2 linked regions of the Homo sapiens genome follow. The protein of the gene in region 1 purifies or fractionates together with the protein of each later gene. This does not show direct contact. Each region holds a gene or a part of one and is shown on either strand. Other genes may lie near its edges. The genes, in order: CYP4B1 and DFFA.

The links.
Region 2: the proteins of CYP4B1 (region 1) and DFFA purify together in Homo sapiens (co-immunoprecipitation; one large-scale study listed by IntAct). This does not show direct contact.

What each region holds. Positions count from the first base shown.
Region 1 is NC_000001.11:46,812,425-46,816,237, reverse strand, and holds part of CYP4B1 (cytochrome P450 4B1), read right to left. Parts: intron 3,743-3,813; coding exon 3,615-3,742; intron 2,757-3,614; coding exon 2,632-2,756; intron 2,330-2,631; coding exon 2,175-2,329; intron 2,030-2,174; coding exon 1,923-2,029; intron 1,165-1,922; coding exon 974-1,164; intron 1-973. UniProt on the Homo sapiens protein: Cytochromes P450 are a group of heme-thiolate monooxygenases. In liver microsomes, this enzyme is involved in an NADPH-dependent electron transport pathway.
Region 2 is NC_000001.11:10,459,255-10,462,821, forward strand, and holds part of DFFA (DNA fragmentation factor subunit alpha), read right to left. Parts: exon of another isoform or gene 2,449-3,567; coding exon 2,236-2,448; 3' UTR 1-2,235. UniProt on the Homo sapiens protein: Inhibitor of the caspase-activated DNase (DFF40).

The sequences.
Region 1 (3,813 bases):
GTGATTTTTCTCTCGCTGTTTGATTATGTGAATTTGTCTCCATAAAACTCCCCACGAGCAGCATGGCTTCTCTTTCTCTTCCGTTCTGCACCCCTGATAGCACCTGGCATGTGTCTGGATACCCCGTGGGGGGGGGATTCTCACATATGACCAACAGAAATGGTAATGGAGGCTTCATACTCCAGGTCCTAGACCCTGGAGTTATAGGTCAGTCCCTTTCAAGTGGATCTAAAGTTCCCCCTCTGGCTCAGCATTTTCTGTACCCCTGCTGTGTGCCTAGCCCCCTCTTGGAGGCTGCTCAGGAGCCCAGAGAGAAAGGCAGGTTGTCTGACCACAAGCAAAGGCCTGAGGGGAACAGGCAGCCAGCAAGGGTGAAGGAGCCTCTTGAGAGACTCCCAGAGATCACACTGCAGAGAGGTCAGGGTCAATCCTTAAGTGTTTAGGAGTTCAGTCTTGAGCCAAGAAACAGGGGAAAACAATGGAAAGTTTTTAAGTGATGAAGTTTGGGGAAGTCTTTTCTCCTTCACCAGCAGGAGAGATATGGCATCTGGAAGCTGAGTATTGCCATCCAAAGGCAAGTAGCAAGGAACTGGCTCTCCCAGCTGTCTCAGCTCTGTTCACCCCCACATTTCCACCTCTTTCTCTCCCAGCTCTCCCTACTCTATCCAGGGACCCAGAAGGGTAATCAGGTTCTACCGTCAGAAGAAGTTAGCACACAAAATATCAGCCTCTTGTTGACAACTTTCTCTACATAACACTTCTGAAAGGCTCCATTTTGGGAGAATGGGCTCAGGGGTGCATCTGTGCCCAGCCAACCACTCTCCCCACCCCCCACCACCACAAAAGGTATGACACTGGGGGTAACAGGATAGCAGCCGCCACCTCACCTGATTTCCAGGATGGTTCAGGACAGGATGGGCATCGCCCTTCCCAAGGGCTGAGCAGGATAAACCGGGCCCACCCTCAGACTCACCACTGGAAGAAGTCCTGGTCCCCTAGGATCTCGCGGACCTCCTCTCTACAACGATGCTGGTGCTCAGGGTACAGGGCCATGCAGTAGAGAAACCAGGAGATACCACTGGTGGTGGTGTCATGGCCTTCAAACATGAATGTGTCCACTTCAGCCCGGAGGTCTGCATCTGACAGTTTGATGTCATCTTCATCCTGGGTTAGGGAAGGCATAATAGGACAGCTTGAGGTATTGGAGGTGGGTAACAAGAAGAACTCATAATGGTGGTTGTCAAATGAAGGTCTCTGGGAGGGAGTGAAAGCTCCTTTTCAGAGGGTGGATTAGGACCTTCCCCCAGATTCCTATATTCCTTCAAAGCTCAGCCTGGATGCCTCCTCCTCCACAAAGCCCTCCCTAAATGCTCTGGCCAAATGACTTGTGACCTTGTCCAGCCCTGACTGTTCTGCTCACTGGGCACATAGAATACCACCTGCCAGAGGAAGACATTTTGGTCAACATCTACCTACTGTCTCCCCTGCTGGACTGTAAGCATCTGGAAGGAAGGGCCAGGTCTTTCCCATCTCTGCATCCTAGCACGGAAATGACCCAGAGTCAGAACTCAGTGAGTTTCTAGAATTGATGAATAAAGAACTTACTGAATGAATGAATGAATGAATGAAGTCTAAGATTCTAGGATTCTACAAGGCCAACATTTTGGGGGATCTTAGAAGTCTAGAAATGTCGTCCAGCCACTACCACGTGACCTAGGCTCCCAACTCCACAGCTCAGGCACACACACCCTACACCTGCCCACCTCTGAACCCCTGCTAATATGTTTCATGGGACGAGGAACAGGTTATATTTGCTGAGGAAAGGGGGAAATGCTTAAGAGCTCCTTCTGCTGTCCTGGGAGGATGGTTGAAGACCTCTCTGGGACCAGTCCTCAGGTAGGGGTGGGCAACAATGTACTCACCCGGGCACCCAGGAGAATGTCCAGGAAGTCCAGGTGCCTCCGGTTCTGGATCTTCTTCCGCACCTTCTCATCCTGCAGGGCTGCCTTCCGCTCCCTGATGACCTGGTCTGAACCAAAAGCACAGAGTGTCACTGCCTGGGAAGCCATCTTTTGTCCAAAGGGGAACTGGGGTCCTATAATGGGAGGGGGCATAGAGGGGCCAGGAGGAGGAACCCAGGCTTCCTAGAGGTGAGCCTTGTGGGAAAGGCCCACCTGTATGGTCATGGGCCACCTGGCAGGCCCGCAGGAAGCGGCGGCCATGTGGGGTGAGCCAGTAGATGAAGTCATTATGGTACTGGAAGGACACAAGGCGCTGCTGCATCAACAGAGTGAGATCGCTGACTGCAAGGTAGTAGCTGCTGTCCCTGCTAAGCAGAGGGTAGGAGGAGGGATTGGCTTAGACACTGGCCCAGGAGCAGAGCCAGAGAAACTCCATTCCAGGAATCTAGCCCCAACCACAGAGCATCCTGCTCTTCTTCTCCCTGCCCTTAAGCCTCCTTGCTAAAGCCAGGTGTTTACCCCACCATGAGCAGGTCCTGTCTCCCCGCAAGCTAAGGCTCCCTGGGGCAGGACCCTATCTCTTCTCAGATCAGAGCCCAGGACCCCTGCCAACTCTCCCCTCTAAGATGGCTTTGGAGACAGTGCGGTCAGCCCCGAGGTGGCTCCTGACCTGTGGCCCAGGCCGGTGTCTCCTCTTCCAAAGGTGCACTTCATGAGTGTGTTCAGCGCCATGTGACCCACATCGCAGAAGATGTCAAAGGACTTACCCTCCCGAGCTTTCTCTTCCCACTTGTCCTGGAGTCCAGGGATAGGAGGCAATGTGTAGGAGGCGATGCAGGGGTTAGTTGGGCTGGATGCCCCAAGCTGCCCTCCAGGACCCGTAGCCTATCCTCCACCACCAAGCCCCCTTCACACACTCCCAGTCCCTGTCCTGCCCTCCATCCTGCTGGAATATCAGGATAGGGTGGGTAGAAGTTTGGAAGCCTCTGGGCTTCAGGCTCAGAGGGCAGGACCAGGAGGCAGATCTTGCACAGCACACAGACGTTTTCTCCCAGTCAGGGCAGCCTATAAGGGAGTAGGATGGCTGAGAGGTGGTGAGCTCCCCCGCATGGTGTATATGTAAGTAATCCTGGAGGGGAGTTTCCTACAAGGGGAAAGACTAGCCTGGATAACTTAGGGATTACCCAGCCCTAAGACTCTAACCCTGACCTCTGACATCCCTCTTAGAGATGAGTTGTATTGACATAATTCTGGGCAGCTGTGGTAGACAGAAAATGAGGAGACACGTTTTAGATGTGAAAGCCTTTCCCCATACTCTCAAATATAGGCAGTCCTCAAACCTGCTATGCTAGGAGCCTTATTAAGTTCTCACAGAGACCCTTTGGCCTGGGAGGAAAGAGGGCTGGGTCTCCTGGTGGAGACAAGGATCGGGCTGCCAGGACACTTAGAGATTCAGCACCGACTCAGTGGCAGCCTGCGGCACATGTCAGTAGAGCAGGGCTTTGGCACTGCTGTTGCAGGCAGAACAGGCCTTGGGGCTCAGCTATTCTCCTTACTGCAGAGCACCACCTACTCTCCCCAGGACAAAATCAGGGTGGAGAGGGGCTAGCCCAGCAGGCAACAGCCTCCAGTACTCTGGCACAGGGAGCTCACCAGCATGATACGTGTAGACTCAGTGAACACGGCCACATAGGGCTTCAGCACATCATAATGAAAGCCAGGTGTGAGCAGCTTGCGGTGCTGCAACCACTTGGGCCCCTCAAGAACCAGCAGGCCTCTCCCTGGGGAAGGGATGGGAGAGAGAGGGCTGGTCAGTCCAGGCCCTGGCAGCCTGGGGCTAAGCACATCCTAC
Region 2 (3,567 bases), about 36 Mb from region 1:
GACTCATCACCTTTTCCCTGCAAGGAGTGTACTGTAGATTACCAAACCTGCAGAAGCCGTCTGTGTGGAGACAGGAGGAGGACAAACCAGGCTTGCTCTGCTTCACACCCAGAGACCTGGAGCCACAGCATGTGGAAATTGCTTTCATGACCTTTTATACCCCCTGCTGATAAAGCAATTAGAAAACTGAAGAGTTTCACGGTGGTGAGATAGAATTTCACAATACTGAGTGAGATATTAGCAATGGACTCTCCGTATGTCCCTATGGTCTACAAGCTTAATATGTATCTTTAAACAAACACATAAAAAAATTCATTAACTGGAGAAACAAGATTGTGGCCATAGTCAACACTCTATAATGTCACCATCTTCACCACTATCTCTGCTTAAAATTCTGCCGTACTATCTTCAGAATAAGGATAATGAATTGGAAATACGACCATTTCTTTTCATTGCCCTTGATGGTTACCTTTTTAAAAAAAAAAAAAAAAAAGTAGGGTCTTACTCTATCATCCAGGCTGGAGTATGGTGGCATGATCAGCCTTGAGCTCCTGGGCTCAAGTGATACTCTCGCCTTAGCCTCCAGAGTAGCTAGGATTATAGGTCAGTGCCACCATGCCTGGCTAACTTAAATTTTTTTTTTGTAGAGACAGGGTCTTGCTATGTTGCCTAAGCTGACAATTACTTTATTTAAAAGCTTTTTTTTCTGGCCAGGGGTGGTGGCTCACACCTGTAATCCCAGCACTTTGGGAGGCTGAGGTGGGTGGATCACCTGAGGTCAGGAGTTTGAGACCAGCCTGGCCAATGTGACAAAACCCTGTCTCTACTAAAAATACAAAAATTAGCCGGGCATGGTGGCACGTGCCTGTAATCCCAGCTGCTCAGGAGGCTGAAACAGGAGAATCGCTTGAACCTGGGAGGTGGGGGTTGCAGTGAGCCGAGAATGTGCCACTGCACTCCAGACTAGGTGACAGAGTGAGACTCTGTCTCAAAAAAACAAAACAAAACTTTTTTTTTTTCTTGAGATACGGAGTCTAGCTCTGTCACCCAGGCTGGAGTGCAGTGGTGCGCTCTCAGCTCACTGCAACCTCTGCCTACCGAGTAGCTGGGATTACAGGCACCCGCCATCATGCCCAGCTAATTTTTGTATTTTTAGTAGAGACGGGGTTTCACCATATTGGCCAGGTTGGTCTTGAACTCCTGACCTCATGTGATCCGCCTGCATCGGCCTCCAAAGTGCTGGGATCAAAGGTGTGAGCCACTGTCGTGCCTGTCCTTTTTTTTTTTTTTTTTGAGACAGAGTGTCACTCTGTCACCCAGGCTGGAGTACAGTGGCATAATCTCGGCTCACTGCAACTTCTGCCTCCCCGGTTCAAGCAATTCTCCTGCCTCAGCCTCCCGAGTAGCTGGGACTACAGGCTCCTGCCACCACGCCCAGCTAGTTTTTTGTACTTTTAGTAAAAACACGTTTCACTGTGTTAGCCAGGATGGTCTCGATCTCCTGACCTCGTGATCCACCCGCCTCGGCCTCCCAAAGTGCTGGGATTACAAGCGTGAGCCAACACGCTCGGCCTGGCTTTTTTTTTTTTTAACATGTTCCATATGGGGCAGGGCTAAATGTTAGGCAGTGCGCCCATAGTCACTGCCAATTACTTTTTTTTTTTTTTTTTTTGAGACGGAGTCTCGCTCTGTTGCCCAGGCTGGAGTGCAGTGGCGCAATCTCAGCTCACTGCAAGCTCTGCCTCCCAGGTTCATGCCATTCTCCTGCCTCAGCCTCCCAAGTAGCTGGGATTACAGGCGCCCGCCACCATGGCTGGCTAATTTTTTTTGTATTTTTAGTAGAGACAGGGTTTCACCATGTTAGCCAGGATGGTCTCGATCTCCTGACTTCACGATCCGCCCCCCTCGGCCTCCCAGTGCTGGGATTACAGGCGTGAGCCACTGCGCCTGGCCAATCACTGCCAATTACTTTTGAACAGAGAACATCATATGTAATTAGAGGAGGCGGGATATTGTTGGTGCAGCTATATCATTCAAAATTGGCAGAAGTCCTGAAGCTGGTGGGGCTAAAAAAAAAATTGGTGGAACGGCGTATGTTGAGACCTGGAATAGCTTCTCTGGAAGGTGCTCTAAGGCAGGGGGTAGAGTAGTACATAGGTAGTCAAATGATGAGGCTGAGGGTGTCTACCAATAACACAACGCCACAGAGCTTCCTTGGCACACTTCCCGCTGCTGCTATGTGGGATCCTGTCTGGCTCGCTTAGGATTCTGCAGGTCACCAGGTGGTGAGGCCTTGCTTGCTGAGATGCTCCGGAGAGAATGCAAGCTCTGCGTCTGCTGCAGGCGCAGGGCGAGCTCCCGCTCACAGGCCTCCTGAACAGTCTCCGTCTTCTTTATGTCCCAGTTCAAGGCAACAGCCAGTGCTTTGGGGTCTTCCTTGGTAACCAACTGCAGCAAGAATAAAAACCCCTGAGAACTGGGCCTTCTGTGCGCCTCTCCTGCTGCTCTCCTGACTCTCTTTTGGGGAGTGCAATGAGGCAGTATCCGTTTATGTTACCTCTTTACACTGAAATGCCGGGTTTCCTTTACCATTAATTGCCACGGGCTTTTTGTTTTTTGAGACGGAGTCTCGCTCTGTCACCCAGGCTGGAGTGCAGTGACACTATCTCGGCTCCCTGCAAGCTCCGCCTCCCGGATTCACGCCATTCTCCTGCCTCAGCCCCCTGAGTAGCTGGGACTACAGGTGCCCACGACCACGCCTGGCTAATTTTTTTGTATTTTTTTTAGTAGAGACGGGGTTTCACCGTGTTCGCCAGGATGGTCTCGATCTCCTGACCTTGTGATCCGCCCACCTTGGCCTCCCAAAGTGCTGGGATTACAGGCGTGAGCCACCGCGCCCAGCCTGCCATGGGCTTTTTTAAGACGGAGTTTCACTCTTGTCGCCCAGGCTGGAGTGCAGTGGCGCGATCTTAGCTCACGCAACCTCCACCTCCTGGGTTCAAGTGATTCTCTTGCTTCAGCCTCCCACCACCATGCCAGGCTAATTTTTGTATTTTTAGTAGAGATGGGGTTTCGCCATGTTGGTCAGGCTGGTCTCGAACTCCTGACCTCAGGTGATCCACCTGCCTCGGCCTCCCAAAGTACTGGCATTAACAGGCGTAAGCCACTGTGCCCGGACAAGCATGGGCCTTTTCTTACAACACCAACAGGAAGAAGTCCTTGGAAAGTTTACTTGGAGCAACTCTAAGGTCCTCCACCTTCAGGAAATTTAGCCAAGCTCAAGTCAACAGTTTCCTTCCCTTCTATCTACAATAGGGAGGTACTTATGACAGGGACAAGGACAATGAATCAGAAGTAGCACCCACCCAGGCAGGTTCCCTTCCTCAAGTTTTTAGCTCCCTGGTCTTAGCCAGCAGGCGACGATCCCCTCAAGTTTGCCTTTTCCTGTGACATTGACAGACCTCAGGACGGACTATAGATCTTCTCTGACCATGGAAAGACCCAGAAGCCATCTCAGAAGATTGGGCCCTGCTATTCCTCCCTGTCAGGAACAGTCATTTCATTACC